4 linked regions of the Homo sapiens genome follow. The protein of the gene in region 1 interacts with the protein of each later gene in a pairwise test. Each region holds a gene or a part of one and is shown in the gene's direction. Other genes may lie near its edges. The genes, in order: KRTAP8-1, FAAP20, ZIC1 and POU6F2.

The links.
Region 2: the proteins of KRTAP8-1 (region 1) and FAAP20 interact in binary tests that used the Homo sapiens proteins (3 or more experiments, as listed by UniProt).
Region 3: the proteins of KRTAP8-1 (region 1) and ZIC1 interact in binary tests that used the Homo sapiens proteins (3 or more experiments, as listed by UniProt).
Region 4: the proteins of KRTAP8-1 (region 1) and POU6F2 interact in binary tests that used the Homo sapiens proteins (3 or more experiments, as listed by UniProt).

The regions. Positions count from the first base shown.
Region 1 is NC_000021.9:30,812,195-30,817,823, reverse strand, and holds KRTAP8-1 (keratin-associated protein 8-1), read left to right. Parts: upstream 1-4,549; 5' UTR 4,550-4,603; coding exon 4,604-4,795; 3' UTR 4,796-5,127; downstream 5,128-5,629. UniProt on the Homo sapiens protein: In the hair cortex, hair keratin intermediate filaments are embedded in an interfilamentous matrix, consisting of hair keratin-associated proteins (KRTAP), which are essential for the formation of a rigid and resistant hair shaft through their extensive disulfide bond cross-linking with abundant cysteine residues of hair keratins.
Region 2 is NC_000001.11:2,191,756-2,199,739, reverse strand, and holds the start of FAAP20 (Fanconi anemia core complex-associated protein 20), read left to right. Parts: upstream 1-4,967; 5' UTR 4,968-4,990; coding exon 4,991-5,052; intron 5,053-5,606; coding exon 5,607-5,742; intron 5,743-5,829; coding exon 5,830-6,101; intron 6,102-6,764; coding exon of another isoform or gene 6,765-6,882; exon of another isoform or gene 6,883-7,984. UniProt on the Homo sapiens protein: Component of the Fanconi anemia (FA) complex required to recruit the FA complex to DNA interstrand cross-links (ICLs) and promote ICLs repair.
Region 3 is NC_000003.12:147,405,137-147,412,384, forward strand, and holds the start of ZIC1 (zinc finger protein ZIC 1), read left to right. Parts: upstream 1-4,228; 5' UTR 4,229-4,976; coding exon 4,977-5,958; intron 5,959-7,248. UniProt on the Homo sapiens protein: Acts as a transcriptional activator. Involved in neurogenesis. Plays important roles in the early stage of organogenesis of the CNS, as well as during dorsal spinal cord development and maturation of the cerebellum.
Region 4 is NC_000007.14:38,980,885-38,987,909, forward strand, and holds part of POU6F2 (POU domain, class 6, transcription factor 2), read left to right. Parts: exon of another isoform or gene 1-622; intron 623-3,365; exon of another isoform or gene 3,366-3,521; intron 3,522-3,992; exon of another isoform or gene 3,993-4,037; intron 4,038-7,025. UniProt on the Homo sapiens protein: Probable transcription factor likely to be involved in early steps in the differentiation of amacrine and ganglion cells. Recognizes and binds to the DNA sequence 5'-ATGCAAAT-3'. Isoform 1 does not bind DNA.

The DNA.
Region 1 (5,629 bases):
GCAGTGAGGAATCAAGGCTGATTAAAAATACTATCTTGCTCTCCTGGAAATAAGCATGTTAATGAGGCAGACAGATACCCATCACACAAGTGAAGGTTATATAGGAACTACGATTAAGTCCTACAGATACGAGGAAGAGGTTGGCCTACTGTTATGCTACAGATGGGCTCCAGCTAATCAGGAATGGCAGAAAGGCCTCCCAAAGGAAGTGATTGAGCTGGCATGTGAAGGTTGCATGGGAGTTGATCAGAAGGAGAGGAAGGAAGAGAATTCCTCACAGAACAAACGGCATGTGTCAAAGCTTAAGAGTGAGAGGAGCATGCGAAGTTTGAAGAACTAAAAGACAGCAAAACTTAACGAAGAGAGAGTTGAGAACTTTTAGGTCAGTTTAAAGATTAAAAAATATTATCCTAAAAACAATAGGAGCAATTGAAACACTTTTTTTTCTTGTTTTATTTCTAAGACTGTTACTGATTTATTCATTTGTTATGTTGAGGTACATGCCTTCTATACCTAATTTGTTGAGAATTTTTATCATGAAGGATTGTTGAATTTTGTCAAATTCTTTCTCTGCATCGATTGAGATGAACAAATAATTTTTATCCTTCATCCTATTCATGTGTAAAGTATATTACACTGATTAATTTTTGTATGCTGAACCACTCTTGCTTATCAGAGGTAAATCTACTTGATCATGTGTATGATCTTTTTAATGTGCTTTTAAATTTGGTTTGCTAGTATTTTTGCATCTATGGTCATTAGGGATATTGTCCTATCATTTTATTTTCTCATAGTGTCCTTGTCTGACTGGTATTAGAGTAATGCTGGCCTCATAAAATGAGTTTGAAAGTGTTTCTTCCTCTTTAATTGCTTGAAGGACTTTGAGAAAGATTAGTATTAGCTCTTCTTAAATGTTTTATAGAATTCAATGGTGAAGCAATCTGGCTCTGGATTTTTCTTTGTTGGAAGATATTTTATTACTGATTCAATCTCATTATTTGTTATTGGTCTGTTAAGATTTCCTATTCATGATGTATTCTTGGTAGGTGGCACGTTTCTAGGAATTTGTCCATTTATTGGAGGTTATTGAATTATTTTGGCATATAATTGTTCACAGTAGTCTCTTATGATCTTTTATATTTTTGGAGTATGTTATAATATCTCTTCTTTTATTTCTGATTTTATTTGTCTTTTCCCTTGTTTTATTAGTCTAGCTAAAGGTTTGTCAATTTTGTTTATCTTTTAAAAAACCAACTCTTAGTTTTGTTGCTCTTTTCTGTTTTTCAGATTATATTTCAGTTATTTCTGCTTTGATCTTTATTCCTTTTTTCTTGGTAACTTTGGACTTAGTTTGTTCTTTTTCTTCTAGTTCCTTCAAATATAAAATTATGTTGTTTAGTTGAAATTCTAATTTTTCTTAATGTAGAGTTTATTGCTATAAACTTCTGTCTTAGAATTTTTGCTGCATTCCAAAATTTTGGTTTTTTTTTTCTGTTTTGTGTGTGTGTGTGTGTGTGTGTGTGTGTGTGTGTGTGTGTGTGTGTGGAGATATTTTTCATTCCTCATTTGACCCACTGGCTGTTCAGGAAATGTTTAAGTTCCTCATATTTGTGAATTTTCCAGTTTTCCTCCTGTTATTGATTTCTAGTTTCATACAATTATAGTTGAAAAAGATGCTTGATATGATTTCATTCTTCTTACATTTGTTAAGACTTATTTTGTGGCCTAACGTGTGATATACACTGGAGAATGTTCTGTGTGTGCTTGAGAAGAATGTGTATTCTGTTGCTGTTGGATGGACTATCTGTACACGTCTGTTAGGTCCATTTGGTCTAAGTTCAAGTACAATGTGTCATTATTGGTTTTCTTTTTGGATTACCCATTCATTGTTGAAAATGGGGTATTGAAGCTCTGTACTATAATTATATTTCTATCTATTTCTTTTTTCAGGTCTATTAATATTTGCTTTATATATTTAGGAGTTTAATTTTTTTGTGATTTTTTGAGCATCTCAACAAATACTTTTGTACTTAATTTTATATTTATTACATTGTATACTTTTTAAGAAAAAGGGCTTTCAGCATTGTATACTTTCAGGCTTTATGAAAACCTTGCTCTTTCTTTGATAAGCCTATTATCAGAATAAAGCTTTCATAGGCTCAATATAGGATTAACTTCGCTATTAATTTTTAAATGACTTGTTGATAAATGATATGTTTCCCTAAAATTTTCTTCTGTTAGAATTTTCTGTAGACTTTCTAGAGAAAATCCAAGCCATTCTCTGTAAATAGGGCTTAAGTTTTAAAAAAGACAACATATTTTAATTACTATTCATGTTCAGAGCTAGGTTTTGTGCTGCAGAAGGCAAAGCTAGCATCTTGTCAGATTGGGTAGGCGAATGGGAGAATTCTTTTAAATAGAGCAACATAATTGACCTTTGGCAATATTAATTCAAAAATTTTAAATTATCCATTATACAATGCTATTTTTTGTCTAATTTTTCTTTTTTCCCTAACATTACCAGCTTTTCTATCATGAAACACAGCAATGTGATGCCAGTAGAAATAGTATGTAAATCATTCTATGATTTTTAGGGAATGATCTGTGGTTGAATACCTTTATGTTTTGGGAATAAATCTAATTTCAATTCCCTGAACTTGTTTAGCTATAAGCCACATATCGTGTTTGAATTTTAATTACTGAATCCCCATAGGCAGCCATCCAGGTTTGCTCACGAAGCAGGGTACTGTAGGTGTTTTCATTCTCCAGAATGTGATTATTACGCATTGCATATCTGTATCAAAACATCTTATGTACTCTATAAATATATAAACCTACCATGCACTCACAAAAACTAAAAATAAAAAAATTTAGGCCAGGCGCGGTGGCCCACGCCTGTAATCCCAGCTCTTTGGGAGGCCGAGATGTGCAGATCACTTGAGGTCAGGAGTTCGAGACCAGCCTGGCCAACATGCTGAAACCCTGTCTCTACTAAAAATACAAAAATTAGCCTGGCGCAGTGGCATGCACCTGTAATCCCAGCTACTCGGGAGGCTGAGGCAGGAGACTCGCTTGAACCAAGGAGGTGGAGGTTGCAGTGAGTCCAGATTGCACCACTGCACTCCAGCCTGGGCAATAAAGCAAGACTCTGCCTCAAAAAAAAATTATATATATATCTATATTTAAAAAAAATGCCTCTGCTGTAATTAGTCTACTGCTGGCTAGAACACTGGCATGGTTTTGAATTTTCCAAGTGTCTCATCTTGTTCTTGGATTCAGCCTTTGATTCCTAGCTGCTGATAGCAGGGAGCAAAGTTACCTCTGGGTTATGAAGTAAAATCTGGGAGAGCTCATGTGTAATACATATCTGTTTTGTGGCCTTCTAGAATGATTCCTATTATCTCTGTGCCTATTTCTGTTCCATATGCCCTCTTTGGTATTTGTTCTGTAAGTTCTCTACTAAGTGCCACTGTAAGAAATCTTAATGCAGGTGTCTGAGAATAATATATCAGGTCTTACATGATCCAAGATAGTTTTGATCAGCCTTATCCCTCCTTTAACTCATGCTTGAGAACTGACTCTCTGTTTAGAAAGGAATAACATTCCTTCTTTATCCTGGGGTGCATGATCATTGTAAAAGTGAAATAACTGATTTCATGTTGTCATCTGGCCCTTTATAATATCATCACATTTGTCAGACAATCTAGTTTCATTAGATCTAAGAGAAAAAAAATTTTAAATCTTACAATAAATTTTTTAATTCATTTTTCTGTGTTTACCTTATTAGTTTCAATGTTTAGTTTGAAATATGTTTCAGGCCAAAAAATTAAATTTGTTTGACAATTCAGTACAAGGATTAATCCAAATACTCCGTTTTAAAATCTCAATACTATTAATTCAAGTAGTCTTCTAGAAATGTGATGTTAGGTATAGTTTAGGAGGGGACTATGATTAAGATTACACTTTTAACCAGTTTCCCAAACACGGTAGCTGTAGTAGAGGAAAAAAAAAAGACTCTTTCTCATGAGTTCCATTGCACTTGTCTTTCATATTCCAAAAAAGAGAATCCTTGAAGCAGGTGAATACTAAGACATACTTTAATTTTGAGAATTTTGAGATAGACTCACTATCCATTTGTTATTTTATATATTAATGTATTTAACACATATTTATTGAATTTCAACTGTGTGTTGTGGAAATTCAGAGAGCAAGAGGACTGCATAACAGCTAACAACCTCAGAATATTTCTTGATATTATATACCTGCTTACAGAGTTATATGGGGTCTATAAGACAGAGTGCTTTGAAGTCCTGGCAATAATTTTTTTTTTTTTAGGAAGGGAAATAATTTGTTTAAAGGCATCTTCTCCCTGTATTGCATCACACGAGAGCTTTCTTAAGCCACTGTAAAGACATCATAAGCAAGAGCAAAACAAGTTAATGAGCTTTTTAGAATGTAAATTGGTGTCAAGAATGAAAATGAGGGCTTTGTGTTTTTCACCACCCACCAGAGCTGGGATATATAAAGAAGGTTCTGAGACTAGGAATCCATCCCACTGAGGAAACGCACTCTGTTGCTACCTAAGCCCTCCACTCCCGACACCATGCTCTGCGACAACTTCCCCGGGGCTGTCTTCCCAGGATGCTACTGGGGCAGCTATGGCTACCCGCTGGGATATAGCGTTGGCTGTGGCTATGGCAGCACCTACTCTCCAGTGGGCTATGGCTTCGGCTATGGCTACAACGGCTGTGGGGCTTTCGGCTACAGGAGATACTCGCCATTTGCTCTCTACTGATTGGCTGAAATCCCCGAGGTGTAGCATCTTCTCTCCCTTGAAGGCTGAGCCCCACATCTCCAGGTTCCCCCCGTATCCACTCCTTCAGTCCTCATTTGCTCATCAACCTCAGAGACACTGCTTTCCAACTTACCTCGAGTCCCAGGGGAGGAAAATGAAAAAGCAGACGCTTCCTCAAGCTGCCTCCCCTGGCTGATGTTCTCTGGGACATTTTCGGAAATTTGACCTCCCACTTGTCATGAGCTACTTTTGAATTTTCCATGACACTCATGACTTGTGATGAAGTCATGGATATGTCTATCAAAATCTCAATAAATTTGTCTCAGCTGGTATAATATTCTCATGCTAGAGCGAAGTTTCCTTTCTTGGTGTGTGCATATTTTCTGTTACATGGGTGGTGGGGGGGAAGTGAATTTATTTTTCTCATGTGGGCATTAGGAACAGCCAGAAAGCAAAGAATTACTGATCCTGTGTGATAAGCAGGTAAGAGGGTGGGTTGCAGGTAATGACTTAAAAGGTTGCCTGTTTGAACCTTCTTTAAATTTTATGATGCCCACCTCCAACCCAATGGAGCACCATTTATTGCTCGGGGTCCCCTTCTCATCTCACTACTTCTGCTCCTCCGCAAGAAAACCCAACACAGGAGGAACTTTTTCAGTCACTTCCATGTTAGTCCAAATGAAATCCACTGTGTTCCCTTTCCCAGGGACTAAGGATTATAGACTAAAGTGCCATGCCCCCTAATGAAGGATGCTGGAGCATTGAGTAATAGAGAAGCCACAGACATCCTTTGGAAATCTGAGAGTTTTTAAGGTGAAGGGATAAATCCCCTAT
Region 2 (7,984 bases), on another chromosome or scaffold:
CCAGTATCGCCTCATCCTGGTTTGATTATATCGGCACAGACCTTGCTTCCGAGCGAGGCCACTTTCTCAGGTACTGGTGGACATGAGTCTTCGGAGACGCTGCTCAACCCACAGTGCTCCTCCAGCTTGGTTTCTGTGACTTGCCTTCCCCAGAGGAGGGGTGCCCTGAGAGGTCTCCACTCCCTGACCGGCTCCTTGGTGCCGCGCACTCTGAGAGGCTTCCCAGGGAACAGAGCACACAGGACCGCCCTCCTGGGTAGACCAATCAGCATCTGAGCTCACAATTTCCCAGCAGGGCAGTGGGGTGGAGAGAGAAGCCTGGGCTGGGCTGGGCTGGGCTGGGCTGGGGAAGCTTCTCCGGGCGGGGGGACGTCAGAGCAGGATCTGGGGCTGATAAAAGCCCGCCCCTGGGTGGGGGCTGAGTGGTGCGGAAGCTGAGCCCGACACGTGGGGATGGAGGACAGGCTGTGGGAGGGTGTGAACCGGATACTGCTTGAAGGGGTGCTGGGGACTTTGAGAGAGGGCGGCTGGCCCTGTCTGGTCGGGGATGCTGGCCCAGACACAGGCCATGGCTGGGATGGGGTTCAGAAACAGGACCGCTGTCTCTCCCGGGCCAGGGCCCTCCCCAGCTGCTCCTGGCTTTCTGGTTCTTGGGGTCAGGGGCAGGCCTGTGCCATGACCCCGCCACTGAGGCTGTGAGGAGGCTGTCGGTGCCCAAGGGCACCAAGGCACACCCCTACTCTTGCACCCCATGTGTGGGCCCGAGCACCTGCTCTGCTGCCCCAAAGATCTGGCGATGTTTCCCAGGCAACTGTCTCTCACAGCCTGTCTGCCTGGCACTCCCGTATCCCATAAATGCCACCACATCTGGCTATGGGTGGGCGTGCCTGCCTGGCATCCACGGGCCAGCAGGTGTGGTGGAGCACAGCCCAGTTCCTGGCTGCGTCAGAAGGCTGCCCGGGCCTTTTGGCTGTCCTTGCCAGCAGGTGAGCACTGCCAGGGCACCGTGTGTGGGTGCTGGGCCATTTAGCCACATGGGAAGGGGTGGAGGCAGCCCAGTGCCTTCAGCATGTGCCCAGGGTGCCTGTCGGCCACAGGTCTCATTTGGAAATTGGGAGGGTGCACGGCCACCGGGCTGCTTAGGCCTGCCAGCCTCAGGGCCCGTCACCGCTGTCTTAGCCTGATTTGCAGGGTGTCAGCGCTGGGCAGAGATGAACATTTGGGTGACTCTGAGGATGCCAGTGGCTGGGACACTTGTTCTTCCGCGGTGGAAGGAGTTGGAGAGGCCTGGCTCCCTGACCTACGGCCAGCCTGGCTTCTGAAACCAGCTCAGTGGGCTGGGGCCTGATTCATCATCCATAAATGTGTCCTTTTTTGCCACAGAGGGTAAGGGGCCTCCTAGCCCACCGGTCTGCAGGTGCGGGAGTAGGAGATGGGTGGCTCTGATGCCCCCACCCACTCGATCACCTTCTGCTCTGCCTGGGATGCAAACTCCCACAGCTGAAACGTTCTTTTGTAAACATGAATTTTGGCTTAGAAAAAACTCATTTCCACTGTGCACGTGTCAGTCCCAACCAGAAATTATTTTCCAATAAAGCAAAACTCCGTCACCACAGCAGCAGATGGCTCCGAAGAAGTGGAGCGTTTTCATCAGGTTCAACTTTGAAACCTCCACCATCACCATCACCAGCACCGCTGTGTCATGCTGATAACTTGAGGACAGGCAGGACAAGGTATGTTTGTTGGAGGTGAACATGCTTCCTTGTCTTGAGAGTCTTGAGTGGCCGGTCCCCTTCCAGGCCCTCGGCTGGCAGGCAGCTGTCGGGAAGCTGTCAGGCGGGAGGGGATTGGGGGTCAGGCTTCCTGACAAGTGGAGGCACCCGCCACGTGCCCAGAGCAGAGGTCACCCCAGTGCCTTTCTCTGTGGACTTATCTCTGGCTGTAGGTCACAGGGGCCTGCCCCACTGCCCCCTCCCCAGTGGTGACATGGGAGGAGGGGAGATTAATCCAGAGCAGCAGATAAACTGGAGGGGAAGAGCCCCCAGGAGGACAACTGTGACACGTTGTGCTGCCTCTGCGTCCCCAAAGCACCAGGCCCAGAGGCCCTGCCTTCTGCCCCATGGCACTGGCCTGGGGCCCTGGCTCCTCTTCCCTGGTGGCCAAGGGTAAATGAGGCCCACTGGGGTGGCTAAGACTCAAGGGGATGGGGGCCCCCCAGCTTCAGTGATGCGGGCTGGAGCCAGGCTCAGCCAGCCCTGAGGTCCCCTGCAGGCCCGTGCCTCCTACCCTTGGGGCACCCGCAGCGAGAGCTTCCCAAGCAGCCTGCGCCAGCCGGGCAGCGCAGGTGTCCCGGGTCTGGGTCACTTGAGACCCCGCCCTGCTTCTGCTCGGCTCTGCCCCTCTTGGGCCCAGTGGCCAGGGCACCTGCATGGGGGAGCCGGGAGGGGCTGGAAGGATGCTGAAGACCCCAGCAAAGCTCTAGTGTTTGGCTTTCCAGGGGTGGGGGCTGGGTCCTCCCGCCCAGAAAGGCCCCTGTTCTGGGGCAGCAGCCACACACAGGTGTCCCTCACATGGTCCTCCAGGACAGGGCAGGGGCCTGAGTTTCCCAGGCTCTGCCCAAGGGACCCAGGCAGGGAAGGAGATGGGTCCCAGGGGGCTCGGAGCCCATCCAGAGGCCGGCCGGTCCCATGGCAGGAGGGCACTGGACCATGTGGGGGCCATAGAGGAGGAGGAGGCAGGAGCCACCCCCGGGTCCAACAGCAGAACCCTGGGGTTGGGAGCCAGAGTGGGGAAGGGAGAGGAAGGAGCAAGAACACCCCCCACCACCCCCAGCACGGCACAGAGAGCTGAGCAAACACTTGTCACCAAGGGCTTTTCTCCTCTGTCTTTTTTTGTTTTTCGAGACAGAGTCTTGCTGTGATGCCCAAGCTGTTGTGCAGTGGTGCGATCTTGGCTCACCACAACCTATGCCTCCTAGGCTCAGGTGGTTTTCGTGCCTCAGCCACCCAAGTAGTTGGGATTAAAGGTGTGCACCACCATGCCCGGCTAATTTTTGTATTTTTAGTAGAGATGGGGTTTCTGCATGTTGGCCAGGCTGGTCTCAAACTCCTGGCCTCAAGTGATCCTCCCGACTTGGCCTCCCAAAGTGCTGGGATTGCAGGCTTGAGCCACCACACCTGGCCTATTTTTTTTTTTTTTTGAGTTGGGGTCTGGAGTGCAGTGGCACGATCTTGCCTCACTGCAGCCCCCACCTACCTGGGCTCAGGTGATCCTCCCACCTTAGCCACCCAAGTAGGTGGGACCACAGGCACATGCCACCATGCCCAGCTAATTTTTTATTTATAGAGACAAGGTCTTGCCATGTTGCCCAGGCTGGTCTCAAACTCCTGGGCTCAAGCAATCTGCCTGCCTGGACCTCCCCAAGTCCTAGAATTGCAGGCATGGGCTGCTGGGCCTGGCCTTTTCTCCTGTCTTGGGAGGCTGGGACCAGTCTTCCTGGAAGTACCCAAGGCCCTCCTGCAGACCATGGTGACATTTCCAGGAAAGACCCAGAAGCTCGGAGCTGAAGCCAGGGCAGCCAGGACTGTCGGGGAGCCCTGGACACTGGCTGTCTGAGAGCGCTTGGTCAGCTGGCACCTGCCATGTGGTGGACGTGGGGCTGCAGAGACCCCACGGCTGGGCTTCTCTCGCCTGAGAGCAGGCCCAGCCACAGGCTACCTCCCACAGGGCCCCCTGAGACCACACGGCCTGCAGCAGCTCCCCCAGGCCCCCTCCCCCTGCCCGGGCAGCACTCAGCGCTGCATCTCCATCTGCTCACTCAAGTCGAAGGGCCTGGGGGTTGGTGCCTCCATCTTGTTCTGCTGGGGGCCTCCAGCATCTAGAGCAGGAAGGTGTGCGGAAGAAAACCACTCATGCAGGGAGAGGGGGACCTCCCAGTCCAGGCCCTGCTGCTGACCCTTTCCCTGAACACCAACCTATGGCCTCCAGGCTGGGGCCCCTTGAAGGACGGTGGGCCACTCGGGTGGCCTGGGTTCAGGGCCGGGCTCCACAGCTGAGTTCTGGAGGGAGGGCACAGACGACTGGGGGCTGGGAGGGGCCAGGTGAGGGGTAGGAACAGCCAGGGAGCCCTGCAGGAGGGGTGCCCAGCATAGCCCCAAAGCTGCTGGGGCTGGGCAGGGCAGAAACTGCCAAGGAGTCCCAGAGCCCTGAGTGGCGTCTGGCGAGGGCCCCTGACCCTGATCTCTGTAGACCCCACTCCTTCCGTGAGGGTGGCAGCCACTCCAGGGCCCAGCAGGGCCAAGGGAGAGGCAAGTGGCCTGGGCCCATGGGGCACTGGGCACAGCCAAGTGTGGCACCAGGGTGCCTGGGCGGCTGCTGCCACCACGTGGCCGACTTTGAGGTCGCAGAGCCCGGGGTCCAGGCAGGAAAGCCCCTCAGCTGCCCCCAGGGCCCTGGCCCAGGCCCCTGAGGCCCAAGTGAGCCACCTGGACTTTGTCACTTCGCCTCTGGTTTCTTGGTTAAGGAGCTTGAGTTCCCCGCCTTTTGTAAAGAAACGGTGGTGGCGACGGCGGATTTCAAGCTTTATTTACTCCTGGAATGGTCCTGGGAGGAGAGGCGGCTCCGCAGAGCCGGAAACGGGGGCGGGAGCTGTTGGGTGCAGCCGGGAGGAGGCAGTGCCGGGGCGGGCCGGGCAGCCATCGGGGTAACGGAGGGGGCTCCGGCCCGGGGGCTGCCCGGACGGGAAAGGGGACACGGGCGGGGCTCCCCCACCTGGGCCCCCCACCCTCACGCCAGGCCCCCCTGTGCGGTGCAGGACGAAGGAACCCTGGCCTCAGTTTCCCTACAGGCTGGGATCAGGGCCCCTGGGGTTCCGACTGTCTCGGAGGGGGGCGGCCTCGCTGCAGAGGTCTGGAGGCGGGGCCGGGGCGGGGGCGGGGCCTGGAGGGGCGGGGGCGGGGCTTGCGCTCACTTCCGCCCGGCGCGGGCTTGGATGGAGGCGGCGCGGAGGCCGCGGCTGGGGTTGAGCCGCCGGAGGCCGCGCCCGGCGGGCGGGTGAGGCCGGGAGCCGGGCGGGGGCGCGGCCGGTTTTCCCGCTCCCACGTGCTTCCCGGCGCCCCCGCGGGCCTCCCGCTCTATTCTCCCCCTGGGGAGGGCTCCCTGCCCCCGGGCCCGGCCCCCACGCCCGTCGCCCCACCCCGCGCCGCCATTCAGCGCCCGCCTTGAGCCCCCACCCCACGCCGAGCTTCCCCCGCGCCGCCCCAGGCCCTCCCGCGCCTCTCCCATCATCGCGTCTCCCCTGAGCACCCCCCATCTAACCCTCTACCTTCCCCAGGCCCTCCGCAATCTCCCCAACCATCGCCTCATCCCGCTGAGGACCCCATATTTCCACCCACCCACCCCGCTCCCCCACCCCCAGTACCCCTCATCTCCGCACTGTCTGCCCCAGCAGCCCTTCCCCCAACCCTGCCGGCCACCTCCCGCACCATCGAATTTCCCTCTAGTACCCCCCATCTCCCCGCTCTCTCTGCCCCAGGCCCTCCCGGGTCTCCCCACCATAGCGTTTCCGCTACTGAGTACCCCCTGTCTGCCCTCTCTGTCTGCCCCAGGCCTTCTGGCGGCCGCCCCTGGTTTCTCCTGGGGGGTGATGAGCGGGAGCGGCTCTGGGCCGAGCTACTGCGCACGGTGAGCCCGGAGCTGATCCTGGATCACGAGGTGCCTTCACTGCCCGCCTTCCCAGGACAGGTGTGCCCACTGGGCCCATCTTAGCGATGAAGGGGTTTCCAGGGCGGGAGCCATCGCTGGGCAAGGCCCAACAACTCTGTGTTGCAGGAGCCCAGGTGCGGCCCGGAGCCCACTGAAGTCTTCACTGTCGGACCCAAGACCTTTTCCTGGACACCCTTTCCGCCGGACCTGTGGGGCCCGGGCCGTTCCTACCGGCTGCTTCACGGGGCAGGAGGGCACCTGGAATCCCCCGCCAGGTCCCTGCCCCAGCGCCCGGCACCTGATCCCTGCAGGGCCCCCAGGGTGGAGCAGCAGCCGTCTGTGGAGGGTGCCGCGGCCCTGCGCAGCTGCCCCATGTGCCAGAAGGAGTTCGCCCCCAGGTGAGTAGGCCACCCCTGCGCCCGGCCCGGTTATCCATCCGTGTTTGGAAACCACAGCCGTTCAGAAGGTCAAGAGGTGGCCGAGCTCAGCGCTGGCTTTTAAAGCCCTGTTTCACACTGGAAAGGTGGCCCAGTGCTGTGGCCTGGCATGTCCAGGTGGCTCTCTGTCACGGGTCTGGGGTCCACCTGCTTGCCGTGCTCTGTGGGCAGGGCAGGCTGGGGGCCCACAGAACAGCACAGAAGGAAGGCTGGGAGCACTGGCCCCGGGTCCACCTGGCCATCCTGGAATCTGGTGGCACCAGCGTCCCCAGGCCCAGAGCACAGGAACACCTTCCCGAGAGTGCGTCATGGGTTTTAAAAATGAAGATCGTCTTTTTTGTCTGGAGATGCTTTTTCTTATTTTTGAAACCCAACGTATATTTTTATGTATTTTTTAAGTAAAGGGGAATGGAACCCAGTTTTGCTAACAAGATAACCCAAACTGCCCAGTGCCTGGCCTTGTGTCTGGCGACCTCTGGGCCCTTGGCCTCCGGAGCAGGTCCTGGGGCTGGGGTGGTGTGAATGATGCTGGTTCGTAACTTTTGGTTGAGTTAATGGGCGGCAGGTTTCAGAGCTTATGGAGACCAGGTCCTTCAGTCATGCCTGATGCCCCTGGTCTTCCAGAAGCAAAAACAGCTCGGGAATGCGAAGGCACCGGAGTCCAAAGTTGGCAGCCAACAACAACAACAACAAAAGAAAAGGCCGGGCACGGTGGCTCACGCCTGTAATCCCAGCCCTTTGAGAGGCTGAGGCAGGTGGGTTGCTGGAGCCCAGGAGTTTGAGACCAGCCTGGGCAACATGGCAAGATCCCATCTTTACATGCCTGGGCGTGGTGGCGCGTGCCTGTGGTCCTAGCTACTCTGGAGGCTGAAGTGGGAGGATTCCCTTGAGCCAGGAATTGGAGGCTGTAGTGAAGTATGATTGCACCACTGCACTCCAGCCTGGGTGACAGAGTAAGACCCTGAATCACGGACAGAGGGTACTGTTGGGAGCCCTGGGGAGAAATCCATGCTCTTGGCTGAAGCTCTGAGATCCTTGTTGCTGTCAGGGTGCTGCCCCCCGCCCCCCGGGGAGGGGCTTTTGTCTTTGCATCGCCTGCTTTTCCAGATAGTCTAAAAAAAGACTTCTGAAGACAAGGACGTTCACGAGGAAAAACTTGCCATTTTGAGCTTTTTAAGCAGTTGCTGAAAGCTTGGCAGACTGCCTCAATTTTTCCTAAGTAGGCGTCAATGAAGTCAGGTCCAGGCCTTGGTGTGTCTGGAATGCTTCAAGCACATTCGAACACTTGATCGTAAGGGAGAGCCGGTACTTTGGAACCGGAACTCACCCGAGGCTGTGGCCACCGCATGGGCAGGCTAGCTGGGGGACAAGCCCCATATCTTTGGGAACAAGGGTTTGCACAGCCACCCTGGGATGCCCTGGGACTCCTGACCGCACAGGACCCCAGCAGGGAGGCCGCCTGGATTGGAGGGTCTGGTCTAACAGCCGGACTTGGTCTTGAACCGTCGCCCTGTCCCGCACAGGCGCCTGCTGAGCCTGGAGCCCTGGCAGAGGCGGGTCTGGGGAGTGGAGCTGCCAGGAGGCCTCCCATTTCTCACAGCCTTGGTGTTCTCCGGGTCACCCAGAGGACCGTCAAATGCTGGATTTGACAAACTATGTAGAATGTTCTTTGTGTCTTTAAGATCTTCTTGTGGTCCTATTTGGACATTTTGTGCATTTTCAGACACCTGCGGGTCACGTGGGTGGATGGGAAGCTGGGCACCTGGTGAGGGGTGAGGATGTTGAGAGCCAGAGCTGCGTTTTGTCTCTGTTGATGTGGCGAGGCCCTGGGTTGGTCACTGGGA
Region 3 (7,248 bases), on another chromosome or scaffold:
CCTGTTCTCTAGAGGGAGAAGCTTGGGTTTCCCAGCTCGGGGCTGAAGTAAGTGTGGGCAGCATCCGGGTGCCCAGAATAGAGTTTGTATCAGTAGATCAGGCTGGGCATTTAGCCCTCCCTTTGAATCACCCCTCCCCCAACCTGCAGGCGGCTGAGACAGGAGAAAAAAGAGCAGCATGCAGTGGTGTGGGTCGCTGCGAGGACAATACTGTCGGAAAGCGGGGAAAACATGACCTTGGAATCCAAAGGGAGTTTCCTGAAGACGGTGACGGCCGAAGTGCAACCCTCCAAAAGCCCCTCCGCTTTCCTAAGACTTTGACATGGGCCATTCATCAACCCCAACTTTCAGATCCAACCTTTGAGCCAGTCCTAGCTTTCTTTCACAGCTCAGCTCTATTCCCTCCTCATTGGCCCCTAATTTCCAATGCCCCTGGGTCTAGGCTAGGGGCCAGAATCCTAGGAGCTGCGGCCTGCTCCCCAGAGAGCTAGTTGCTGCTCTTGTTCGCATTGGAGATAAAGAAAGCCAAGTCCCGAACCCACTGCTGGCCGCGCGCAGAGAGCAGATCCCAGCAGTCAGCTTCCTGAGGCAGGACCAGGGTGAGGGAGGGCAAGGAGCCGCCCTGAGGTGGACTCAGGCGGCATCTGCCGTCAGGTTGGGGCGGAGAAGTTCCATCGTCTTGCTGCCATCTGGGCTAACTTGGCGCTTTGACCCTGGAGAGGGGAAGCAGAGACTCTCCTAGCCACCCCCTTGGGGGCAGAGCAGAGATACCTCCTGTAAAGGCCCCCTCCCGGCACCCGCCTTGCTCATTTTTCGCGAGGGAAGCTCTGGGCCACGACTTCCATTCTTGTGCCCACGGTGGGGCACCCAGGCAATTCACAAGGAGAGAAGGGAAGGCAGGCAGGCAACAAACTGCTCCTGGTTCCTGTGCCAGTGGGAGCCCCATTTGTACCCCTTTTCCCTCCTCCTGGGAAGAAGGGATGGACTCATCCTCTGCGTTGCCCCTTTGCGGAAGGGCCCCCTCCTCCCCTTAGTGTCAGTGGGGTGGGGCCTTTATCCACGGTTGGGGGAGGGGGGTAGGATGAAGGAGGAGATGGGGCAGAAAGACTGGCTGGGCCTCTTCCCCCACTGGGGTTTGGGTGCCAGTGGTCCCCTTGAGGGTACTTGCTACCCGGTCGCTGGAGGTACAGTTCTCATCTGTCTGCCCCCTGGACTCACGCACTTACCCCACTCCACCTGTTGCCAGGATCGCCTCATTTCTGCACATCATTTCGGGGTGGCTGAGAGGGGACCACAAACCCCTCCAAGCCTCTCTTTTGTGGTTCCAGCGAGGCGGTCATCCTTCACTTCTCCTTTTCCAGCTTTCAGGAAGCAGTTAGGGAATGTATGATGAAGCAGAAATGAGCCGTCAGGATGATATTTTAATGGCTTATATGTCACGTTGGTGCATGTGGCTTTGAACTGGAGCCGTTCGCGTTTCCTGCAGAGAGCGCCGCAAATCCCACTTGATAACTTCTACAACCCACAACTTTTTTTTTTCTCACATTCACTCTTACCCTGTATATTTGGATGTGTTTCCTAAAAATACCCTCTTGTCAACGTCCCCGTTGGATTTTCCACGGACTGGAGAGGAGAAGACTGACTTTTCTTTTTTGAAGAATTATTTTCCCTCTCCCCCTCCCAACAGCTACCCTTCCCCCCTTAGGTCCCCTCCCTTGTTGTGTGTGTGTGTGTGCGCCCGCGTGTGTTTCCTGAAAGGCGGGCGAGGTGGGTTCAATATCTGTTCTCCCTAGTGAGAGGAATACAGCCTCTAGAGAAAACTTCTCCATACAGATGAGGTTTTCTAAACTCCAGGGGAAGCAGGATCCAACTTCCCCTTGTAGGTAAAAAGACTTAGTGCCTCCGATATATCTTTTTTTTTTCCAACCAAGTGTACAATAATTTTTAAAGATACCTCGGCCCTTTCTTTACCTCCACTCCTCATTCCATTCCACTCAAAGTTGGTGGGAAATGCTGGGCTGCTAGACTCAGACTTGTTGATGGGAACAGAACAATTAATTTTTTTTCCGAATTTATATTTCCCGGCACAAGCACAAATGCTCAGCCAGGTCCCTTCAGGCACCGGGAAATCATCCCGGATACCCAAGCCGACTTTTGAGCAAGCACAGCCCATGGAAAGGGCAGTCCCGCCGGCCAGCCCCAAGCGAGAATCTAGTTGGTGAGAAGACCAGAAAACCAGAAAGGCGAGGAGCGGCGGACGCTGACCCTGCCTTCCTCCAGCCCGTGCAGTCAGCGCTGGCGTCAGGGCAAAAAATATATTCATTTTCATTTTCCTCTCGCTGGGGCACGGTGAGTTTCCTAACCGGGCCGCCTATGAAAGGATGAGTTGAGGTTTCTTTGTTTGGAAAAAGAGTTTAGGGCTTTGATTCAGCTGCAAAGAAGCCAAATGAAGTTAGAAACAAAGGGTAAATTGAAGGATTCCGACTCTTGGCTTTTTGTGTTTTCCTTACTAGAAAATAATTAGACCTAATGAATATGCAGACGCTTCAGCTAAAGCCTCGGCCAGGACTGCTGGGTTTTAAACAGAGCTGCGGAGAAATGCAACCTTCGTCCCCACAACCCCCCGCATCCGCGTGCATTTTTTGAAATGCATAAATGTTGCTCGGCTTAATTGATTGAGTCACAGGGATTTTTTTTTCCTGCTTTTAAGTACCATACTCCCCTACCTTTCAACAATCATTTTAATATATAGTCAATGGCTCTTTGTGGAAGGGACAAAAAGAAACTACGCGCAGTTGTTGAATAGACTTTGCGCTAGGCAAAGACAGGTTAATCGAGGGCCGCATCGCGAAAACAAGCGAGTGTTGTATGTTTGCACTGAATCCAAATGTCTGCATTTTCCTAACTAAATCAAAGGGAGTGTTATTTCTTTTTCTGCTCACTCATCTGAAGGTAAGTAAATTTTCTCTGGCGATCAAAAGCCTGGTCGGCAACAAAGACCGCGCCCGCTTTTTCCACCGTCCTGGTGTGGCGAGTTGCGGAATTTCAATAACTGTGACAAGGGTGACTGATTTGTGAACTAGAAAAGGTTTGAATGTCACAAAATTTACATTGGTCCTATCTATTGGGGATTTAAATACCGAAAAAGTATTCGGGGATCTCTAGGGAGCTTTGGGCAGCCCAAGGGAACAATAGCGCGTTGGGAAATTTACAGTTTTACCTGAATGAAAGGGGCCCAAGTAGGGAACAGGAGTGAGGAGAGACAGGGTTAGCGGGGGCAGTCGAAGGAGACAACGGAAAGGCAGAAAACAGAAAAATAACGCAAGAGAGAGAAAAAGTAAAGGAAACTGGCAACAACGTTTCAAATTTGCCATTAAAAAATTCAAACCTCAATAACCTGGGAACTTAAGCGCTTTCATCCACCTGTGTGTGTGAGTGTGTGTGTGTGTGTGTTTTCGGGGAGGGGGGTGCGGTGGTGCCGGAAGTCTGATTAGATAAAAGCGAGAAATACAGAGGCTGCCGGTTACACTGAGAAATTACATTTTTTTGTAAAGAGAGCATAGTGCCCGTGTGCTCCCAAGATCTTAAATTATAAACAGGAGGGGGACAAAGCAAGAGGGAAACAAACTTCAAAAGGAGCAAATAACAAAAGCCTCTTTTGCTGCTCTTGAAGGGAGGGGGGAAGGGGGAAGAAAGAAAAGAAAGTTGCTGAATCGGGACATTCTGGAAGTGCCTTTGCTGTGTTTACTAGCCCCATCCCCGCCTGCTGCACCCGGAGACGTCTGAAGTCTCTAATCGCTCAGCGAAAAGTTGGTTTCGGGAAGGGCAGCGCCGGGGTGCGGGAGGGCAAAGGAGGAAGAGGAATGCATATGACTGTGAGAAGGAAAAGTAATCGTGGCAAAAAAAAAAAAAAAAAAAAAAAAAGAAAGAAAGAAAAGAAAAAAGAAAAAAAATTTCCGTGAGAAGAGGGAAAAAATTTGGCTAAAAAAAAAGTTGCTACTCCTGGCAGCCCTGGTTTGTCAAAAGGGGATGTCAAGCGCTTTACAATACCTGGGATTGATGAGGCGGGCGGGCCAATGAGCTGCGCGCGGCGCCTCGGCGCGCCCTCCGTTGGCGCGGCGGCTGAGGGCGGGGGGAATGCGGGCGCACCAATGGGCGCCAGCGTCGGCAGCACGTGACACCTCCCCCCTGCTCCCATTCATCAAGGGGGGGACGGTGTCGTCCTTTCAATTCATTTATCTGCAGGAATGATTGCTGCTATCAGTCTCGCGCTCACCGCCCGGCTGAGGAGGTGAAAGTTTCTCCCCAGGAAGATAAACCGCAAAAGACAATATTGTGCATGATTTGCGCCTTTTCTTTGGCTTTTTCTTTCTTTCTTCACCCCCCCACCCACTTTTTTTTTTTTTTTTTTCAAAAAGCAGAGAGGGAAAAACGGAGAGTGAAGGAGCGAGGAGGCGAGCGTGAGAGAAAGGAGAGAGAGAGAAAAGAAAGGGCGAGGGGCTAGTGGAGAAGTAAGGAGGGGCGCGCTGCGCGAGGCGGAGAGAGGGCGAAGCAGTCGCGGCACTGGCGCTCACATTCCTCTATGCTACAAATCCAGGAGGAAGTTTTTTTTTAGGGGGCTGAGATGCTCCATGCCTTTCCCCGGGCAGCCTTGACGCGCGGCCCTCTCGGCAGAGACTGAGCGGCGAGAAAGTGCGAGCCGGGCCGGCAGAATCTGCCTGGCGGGCGCTGGAGCCTGCGTTACTCGCGGCCCGCAGCCGTCCGGCTACTTTGCGTTTGGCCCGGCCAGCGCCCGGGCGCGCCGCGCCATTGCCTGCAGGCTAGGACTTCGCGAGGTGGGTCGACTCCCCCTCCCTCCTCCTCTTCTTCCTCCTCTTCCTCCTCCTCTTGTTCCTCCTCCTCCTCCCGATTTTCCCTCCTCGGCTGGCGAGGGTGGGGGGGGCGGGGGAGGCCGGGGCTCGCCCCGAGCAGCCACGATGCTCCTGGACGCCGGCCCCCAGTACCCAGCGATCGGCGTGACCACCTTTGGCGCGTCCCGCCACCACTCCGCGGGCGACGTGGCCGAACGAGACGTGGGCCTGGGCATCAACCCGTTCGCCGACGGCATGGGCGCCTTCAAGCTCAACCCCAGTTCGCACGAGCTGGCTTCGGCCGGCCAGACGGCCTTCACGTCGCAGGCGCCAGGCTACGCGGCTGCTGCGGCCCTGGGCCATCACCATCACCCGGGCCACGTCGGCTCCTATTCCAGCGCAGCCTTCAACTCCACGCGGGACTTTCTGTTCCGCAACCGGGGTTTTGGCGACGCGGCGGCGGCAGCCAGCGCACAGCACAGCCTCTTTGCTGCATCGGCCGGGGGCTTCGGGGGCCCACACGGCCACACGGACGCCGCGGGCCACCTCCTCTTCCCCGGGCTTCACGAGCAGGCTGCCGGCCACGCGTCGCCTAACGTGGTCAACGGGCAGATGAGGCTCGGCTTCTCGGGGGACATGTACCCGCGACCGGAGCAGTACGGCCAGGTGACCAGCCCGCGTTCGGAGCACTATGCTGCGCCGCAGCTGCACGGCTACGGGCCCATGAACGTGAACATGGCCGCGCATCACGGCGCCGGCGCCTTCTTCCGCTACATGCGCCAACCCATCAAGCAAGAGCTCATCTGCAAGTGGATCGAGCCCGAGCAGCTGGCCAACCCCAAAAAGTCGTGCAACAAAACTTTCAGCACCATGCACGAGCTAGTTACGCACGTCACCGTGGAGCACGTAGGTGGCCCGGAGCAGAGTAATCACATCTGCTTCTGGGAGGAGTGTCCGCGCGAGGGCAAGCCCTTCAAAGCCAAATACAAACTGGTTAACCACATCCGCGTGCACACGGGCGAGAAGCCCTTTCCCTGCCCCTTCCCTGGCTGTGGCAAGGTCTTCGCGCGCTCCGAGAATTTAAAGATCCACAAAAGGACGCACACAGGTACGGAAACAGCTGTAGGACCCCTACCCATTCCCACTTGGGCCTGGGACCCAAACCGAAAGTCAGCGGCCAGGTCGCACAAACGCAGCCTCGGTGGGATCCCGGGCGTCAGGTTCCGGCAGGCAGGCAGGGAAAGTGTGCGCTGATTTTTAGTTTCTGGCTTGAAATTATGGAAAACACACACACACACACAGGGCGGACGAGGAGGAGCTGGGTATATAGATTTTTTAAATGAGAAACAAAAAAGGTCGGAGAACAGGAAGCCAAACCTGGTTTGGCGGAGACCTTGGTGCTTTCGAAGCCGGAGAAAGTGGCTGGCTCCCGGCAGCCGCGGAGGCGCCAGCTGCTCAGGCTGCAGACAAATCTAAACCCTTGCTTGCTGCCAACATCTCTCTCCGTGCACTTCACTGAGGACTTTGCCAAAGGAAAGAGCTGAGGAAATTGAGGAGGCCGGGTTAAGGGCGTAGAAAGAAACAAAACAGAGACAGAAAGAATTGAGACAGAGTGGGGAAAGGAAATAATTTGGGATTGAGGAGGCTTTTGGAGCTTTATGCATATTTGAAGAGTTCAGTTTTAGTAGTGACTGGTTTTAAGAGTGGGTTTGAGGGGTGGAGAAAGTCCGAGGAAGGCAAGGAAGAACTTGTTGTCTATTAGACTCCATGAGGGTGTTTTCAAAACACCAGATTCCCCTCTTTGGCCTTTAAAAATAATCAAGACACAGGTCCGGAACAGTTAAAAAAAAAAAAAGTTCCCACGAGCTCAGGGTTGTAGCCTGGCATCAGACAAAACATTCTGGGCCCCCTGCCCCCAAGAGGCCGGGAACTGGGTCTCCTTTCCTATTCTGATTTTCCCGGGTGAGATCTGAGAACCATGCTTGAGACTTCGGGTTTAACGCCCGAGTCAGGGAAGAATTTGCGGCGTTGAGTTCTCTCCGGCCCAGATTACGCTATAAAATGTGAGTGTATGTAGGGAGTGGGGTGGGTTGGAGGAGGCGACCAGGGGATGCGGAGCGTCGGGGAGGGGGCAGGGGGAGGAGAGAAAAGCAATAGGGCAGGAGAATAAGCCGCAAACGTGAAAACTAGAAACCAGGAGCCAGGTGGAAGCAATCCGAAATCGTGTGTAGCTCTGGGTAATACGAGTTTCCAGATCTGATGCTAAAAACCGACTCCTCCTACTATTAATTTTTTTAAACATAAAAATAAAATGTAGATCCAATTGTATTAGGGATTACAATAGAGTTAAGATATTTATAATTCCACTGCAGATGTAAGAATTTATTGACGTTCCGGG
Region 4 (7,025 bases), on another chromosome or scaffold:
TGTTTCTGGCCATGATCCAGCTCAGGACACAGCGCTGGCTTCACAGAGTAGAAATTGCTCATATATGCCTTTCCCCTAGGATTTCTCCTCCCCCAAGCAAGCAATTAAGCAGTCTAGTACTTGGAAGAACAAACTCCCTGCCTAGTATATCAAGATGAAGAAACTTGGTTCATTCACACAATTTTTGGAAATCAAATCAGATTTCTGATAGCAATTACCTGTAGTTAGCTTCCTAACCCCTTGAAGGTAGGATGGATTGTTATTCATGGGATGATTTTCAATTCAATTCAATTACACAGTTAATCAGTTTCTGATCGTTGGTTTGATTATCATTTAGAAATGAAGACTTGCATTTCCATCTCTTATGGCCATGTTTAGTGCTTCGTTTCTTTTTTTTGCAGACCTGAGCTTGTGAGTGACAGATTAGTTCATCAGTACTGCGGACCTCCTGTTTTTGTTTTTTCTCATCTCATACAGTCGGGTCACTGTGTCCAATACTCCTTCTGGCACTGCTGTCCCCAGAGGACTTAGGCAGCCCACCATCCTGATGCACAGGCCTGAGGGTCCCTGTTGGCTTCACGTCTATAGACTGACTTTTGCAAATATTGCAGAACAGAGGATATTAAATTAGTTGTTAATAAAAACAACAGATGAACCAAATTAGATGAAAATATTTATCAAGTATATCTAAGAGTTTGCTGGGAGTGAGAGAGAGACAGCTGGATAAAGTGATCATGGATGCACTTCCAGTTGACATTGCTAAAGTACTAGTAGAAGAGAGAAGAGACCACACATTCTATATTTTAATAGCATTAGAAGTGCAGTAAAAAGCTGTTTACAATTTCCCTTACTGGTACAATGGGTCTTTTATTTTTCAAAGTACATTTCGACCATGTGAAGTGTTGTAAAGTTGTACATCAGAAAACTAATGCAAATGTCTCAGACAGTGCTCAGTATGTGTGCATGCATTTGGCTTAACAGTATCTCCATGTATGTTTTCTTATATGGAGATTTTAAAACACACAAATATTTCACCGTTATAGCATCAAAACAATTAATTTTACATAGAGGTTTGTTTATACCATCCCTTGTTCCAAAAAGTATTTAATGTAGATTTAATAATAATTTGCTTACCTAAAATATGCTCAAATTGATGTGTGATGCAAGTGGTCTAGGGAGAGGGGACACTGGCTCTCATAACACATTTGAAGATTGCCCTCTGTCAATTTAGACTGATATTCGTGCCTTACATATAAAAATGAAACACTGGGGCTAACCTAACCCTGTTTTACTCATGTGAAGCATAATTCCCATATACTCTTAAAAAAAGTCATTTTTGTGGGTGTGAATGCCTGTATTTTTGAAACTGACAGATTGCTTCAACAAATTTATGTATTTTGGGAGTGTGAAATTATTACTGCTTTAATTTTATTGAGAATACTTTTTCCCCAAGGTATTATGGATGGATGGTATACTAGAAAAAATACAGATTAATTAAGGATTATTCTTTCTTATACATACTGGTGCTAGTATTCTTTTGGTAAGTTCCAGACTGACCAAAATTGAATTTGTACTATGTATTGTTTATTGACCTAAAAAACTTCACTTAATATTTCATTCATACTTATAGGAAAGTCTTATGTTAACATTTTACATTTCACCAGATGGACTTAATTTTTATTATGTTTAGAATTTTTAAAAATTAAAGCAGACATTTAAATGGTAAAGTCAATTTTGTCCATTTAAGTAAAATTTAACAATATAGTAATACTACTATCCAATAATGTTAATACTAAACAACAATTAGATGAACTTGGGTCTTGAAACTAAATTTTCTTTTCTATCTCTAAGGTCAATTAATGAAACTCTCTGTACCATTCAATTATCATTTTCAATGCTTAAGAACTTAAAACTTTTTTATTCTTACCTCTAACATATGCAGAGAGGTGGCTGCAACTTTTAGAATACAAATGCTTACAAAAGAAAGTTTGCATGTAATAAGTTTCCTGCGTGTAAAATCTATAATATTTGTTTCAGAGGTCAGTGAAGGATGTTTCTTCACTGACCTTTTCTTTGCTATGTAAACTGCATATTACCAGTTTCAAGTATTTTTCTCTTTATTGCTTACAAAAATTGGAATATAATTAACATGTCTGCAAATACTGAAAAACTTCACTTTTCAATTGCATTGTGATATTGTACAAGCTGTTACTCTTTTCTAATGCTTGATTGAGTAGAAAATAAAGTTGGGACATAAAGTGCAAACATGAAAGGATCAGACTTGAAGAAACAATGTGCAAAAAGATAAATATTGACTTTAATTTGAACGCTAAAAGAAAATCCAAATTACACAACTTCTAAATTAATTTGTAATTTATGGCCAAATCTTTACTTGGGAGATAATAGCTGCTCTATATATAATCTCAAACCTGGATTTATGTTCTTTTTCCCTTCCCTCCCTCCCTACATCCCTTTCTTCCTTTCTGCTTTTGTTCCTGCCTCCCTCCTTTCTTTTTTTTTTTTTGTAGGTGAAATGTGTATCCAATAAAGTAAATTACCAACTCAAGTTTGCTCTGTTAGCCTATGTAAATTGCTCTGTTGAGCCATATTGTCTTAAACTGATCCAAAATTGTAATCAAGATTTGTACCAGTTTTGCTTTTTACACATTTCTTCTGCATCTCAATTTGAAGAAGCGGTTGCGAGTGAAACACTATCACTACATTTCAGTAAAGATTTATTTTTCTTTTTATTATTTTCTTGTTCTTCCCAGTTCCACAATGTGAGCCAATTGTGGTGAATATTGCTTAATTTTTACTGGAAAAATTCCTTCCTGGTTTTCTGTATGCTTGTGTTATTTTTCCACACCCCACTTATAAATGATCATATTATTGTTATTTCAGGGATAGCACTTCTCATAAACGTAAAACCATTGTATGTAAGTAATAGCAAAATAATTGAAAACATCTTTGATTATTTACATTAAAGGAAATTCTCTAGGTTTTAAAACACTTGTTTTTCAGGTTGGCTGGTCTTCAGAAAATAGCTTTTTGTTTTATCAGTAGCTTTAAAACCCCCATGGTATGAAAGATTCTTTCTTCAAAAGACAGACATTAGCTGTTGATACTTGGCACTGATTCTAGGTGAAATGCAACCCTATTCCTTTCAACAGCACTTTTTTAATTATAAGACAAAAAAAATTGAAGATCAACTGAGTATTCTCACTTTCACCTATTTTCAGCCTTCCCCCGACCCAGGAGGTACATTTTTCCCATGGGAAAAAGTACCCACATAATTTCCAGCACTTCCCTAGTCCTAGGGTCAAAGATGCAAATAAACGTGTTGACACCTTTAATGAAAAGGATATAGTCGCTCAAAAGTATTGCTCTGACATTTTGTTCTCCTTCTTCACTGCCATTTCTCCATCAGCTTTTCTTCTCTTTTCCACTGTGAACCAGAGTCAGTTTGATGAGTAATAAGTGAAAAGCGAAATCTTTGTGGGCTTCCCAGGCAGGAAAGGGCACTGGAAAGAGAGACAAGACCTCGAGCAAAACAAAGCAAAAAGGCAGCAGAAAACTCACCAATATACTTGCTTCTTTAGTTTATATTTCTAAGTTATTTTGTAAGCTTACCTCATCTCACCTAGCAATTCAAATCACACACAAAAAATACAGTGAAATAATACGTTAGCACAGGAAAACTAGAATTAAAAAACAAAGTCTAAGAAAAGGCCTCACAGTGCTTGTGCTGTACACAAATTTCAATATTAAGGAAAACTTTTCTTTAAATCTTTAGAGTTTTTACAAGAGGTTAGCCAGTGCTCCGATGCTGTGAAATAGTACTTATTATTTCTGGAGTTTAATATGATGTTGACCCTGCATATTTTATGACTTTGATTTTTGATGAATAATTTAAAACTATTTTTAGAAGAAAATATTTATCTCTAACATCTAAAAACTTAGAGAAACAGGTATATTTTTAAAAGAATACATACCTGTTAAATGGTGTTTTTAGCATTGATCAGAACTCAGGCAAATTCCTGTTCAAAAGAACAAAGCACAACATTTATAGGGAGCTTAGTTTTCAGTGCAGAATTCATATACAGATTTTTTTAAAGGAAGTAGGTTTTTGTTGAGAGTAAAAGGTAAATATTGTACCAAGACAGAAGCAAGGATACCAGAAGCCGTAATTGATACTGAGGAAATATGAGAAAAGTAGATATTTCTTAATTCTTCAGTTCTTTTCCTCCAAATTGGAAGGGCAGAATGGGCAAGAATGGAGCTGGACACACAATAGTAGGGACTATGGCACGCCAAACTTGCTTCAGACACAGCTAGTTAATTTTGTAAGTCTTAAATAATACTAGAAAACAAGCCTCTTTCAACCTTTTCTCCAAAAGGTTGAGAGTTAGGACAAATGTAAAATGCTGCTTAATGGGCACAAATAAAACAAGAACATCAAACTCATTTCACTTAGTGTCAGTCCTGATGATTCATCATTATGGTCAGGGCGAACTCTGGTCTTTGGGCCGAAACAATTTTATCCATTAAAAAAAAATCCAGAATGTTCCAGCTTGAATCTTATATCCTTAGGGTTACAATATTGAATTCCGAATCGGGAAACTTAATCTTGCAGCCAGATTTGACAAGATGCTGGTTGAATGGTGGGCAGAAGTGATGATTGTGGGATGAAATGCCCTAGGTCAGAATTTGAGAAAAATAAGAGATTTTGTGAAAGTTTGGCTGTGATATAAGAATGCCAAGTTTGAAAATTTCTCTCTGTTCATATCAGCAGATGGTGTTCCAGGGTCTTAAAAGTAAATCTCTGCTGTATTCATTTTCTCTGTTTCAATATTTCTTGAACAAAGTGAGTCTTTACACATTCTTAGGTGCATTTCTTGGTGTATTTCTAGAACTGCTAATACAAGAGGTGTTTGTAGTAATATTCAGAAGGTTTCTGGGAACGAAGGCTAATATGGCTCAAATCCCAAACAGTCCTACATTGTTCCTAGGTAATATATTAATCCTCAATTCAAGAACTAAAGTTGTGATTTCTTTTCTGAAAACTTTTTTCATTTGTAAACAAACCTATATCTAGATTCCTAGTGACGAAAGAATTTAGAGTAAAAATGAAAATGAGGCAGTCTAGCAATCTAATTCATTAACACACACGCACACTCACAGACATACTTTAAACATTTTGGGAATACTTGACTATTTAACCTCTAATAATCTAAAAATATTTTGTCTCTGTTTTCAATCTTAGTACCTGAAAAAATTATGACAGATGTTTACTTAAAATACTCCTCTCAACTTGGTTGAGAATGGAAAAATACTTTGCAACTTTTTTGTTTTTGTTTTGAGATGAGGTCTTGCCATGTTGCTGAGGCTGGCTGTGAACTCCTGGGCTCAAGAGACGCTCCCACCTCAGCCTCCTGAGTAGTACTTTGCAGCTGTTAAACATCAAGTTTGTGGTAAGAATTCGAGTACATAGTCGATTGGAAAACTGCAAACGTATGAATATTGTGGTTATTTCCTTCCAAAAACAGGGGGGCTCTTTGGTTTGCAATGTACTGCCATTTGTACTAGTGCTGAAACCTATCAACTGCAATTGCTTTCTCCCTTTCTACCTTTATTTATCAAATAGAATTTAAACAGCTAGTTCAGGCAGAGAGTGGAACATCTGAGTAAAAGTGACAGTACATGAACGCAATTCTTATATGCACGTGATTGAAGTGAGTTAATTACATGGTAGACTCCTATGAGTATTTTTGAATTTTTTACTAAAAAATTATAACAGTAATTTCTGCATATGGCAAACCATTGCAATAGCACAGAATAATATAAAGTGGAAAGTAAAGTATCCTGATTCCACTCGCCACAAATAACCACTGTTAACTATTTCTTATATATCCTTCCAGAGATTTTCTGTGCATGTATATGCAATCCTTACACAACCCAAGTAGAACTATACTATACATAGAGTTCTGCAACTTACTTTTACATATAAAAAATATTTTGAACCTCTTCTCATGTGACTATGAATAGATCTGCATCCTTCTCTGTAGTACTCCCTTTTATGGATATACAGTGATTTATTTAACCAGTTCTCTCTTGATCTAGCTTTTAAAAATAAGTTAGTCTCTGCAATCAGTCTAACAAGTAGAGAAGTTTCATTTCTCTTAACATAAAAGATTTCAGAATTTTCCAAATAGGATTTGTTTGAGCAGAAGAACTCATAAATAGTGTCTCCTGAGAGAAGGTTAAGTGTAATGTTAAAAGTGAAGAGTAGCTTTATGCCACAAGAAAAGATACTTATCATCTATATATTGAATACTCAAACCAATTAAAATAGCAATAAAGATCACAATATTTTATTTAGTAACAAAGAGGTAAGAATGACAGAGAATGGCGTAAAGAGCTGGTTCTCAGTCAGACACACTGTGACTTGAAAACCTTTATGTTTGCTCCAAGCCACCAAACTCAACTGAACAAAATGCTTGTTATTTTCTTTCATGAGCCTCAATGCTGTTTATTAAGATAATTGACATAGATGTATGTTTCCAATGCATGATTCAGTTAGTGTATCTAGATTAGTGAAAAAGAGACCAGAAGAAATTCATGGTAATTAATGTCAGTTAAATTTCTGTTTTCTGTATTTCATATTGTCAGACCAATCCTTCAACCCTGATTCATAAGTTAAATAATGCAGTCACAAGCAGGGCTAAATAAAAACATGTAATGAGACTTAGCTCTTGAATTCTACTAATTTAGGGTTCTGAGAAGGTAGACAAAGTGTACATTATTGAAATATTCCAGAGAATGTAAAAAGTTATGTTTTACGTTTCTTTTAGGATATGTCTCTGCTCGTTCTCTTTAATTACGTCACCTCACATATACTAAGAAGACAGTAACGTAGGTGGTAATGAAATCTTATATTTGAATAAAAGATGGGAGTGTGAGCTGACCATGCCATCTTTCCCTACACAGACTTCCAGAATTGAGCCTATGGAACTGTCCATTGGGTA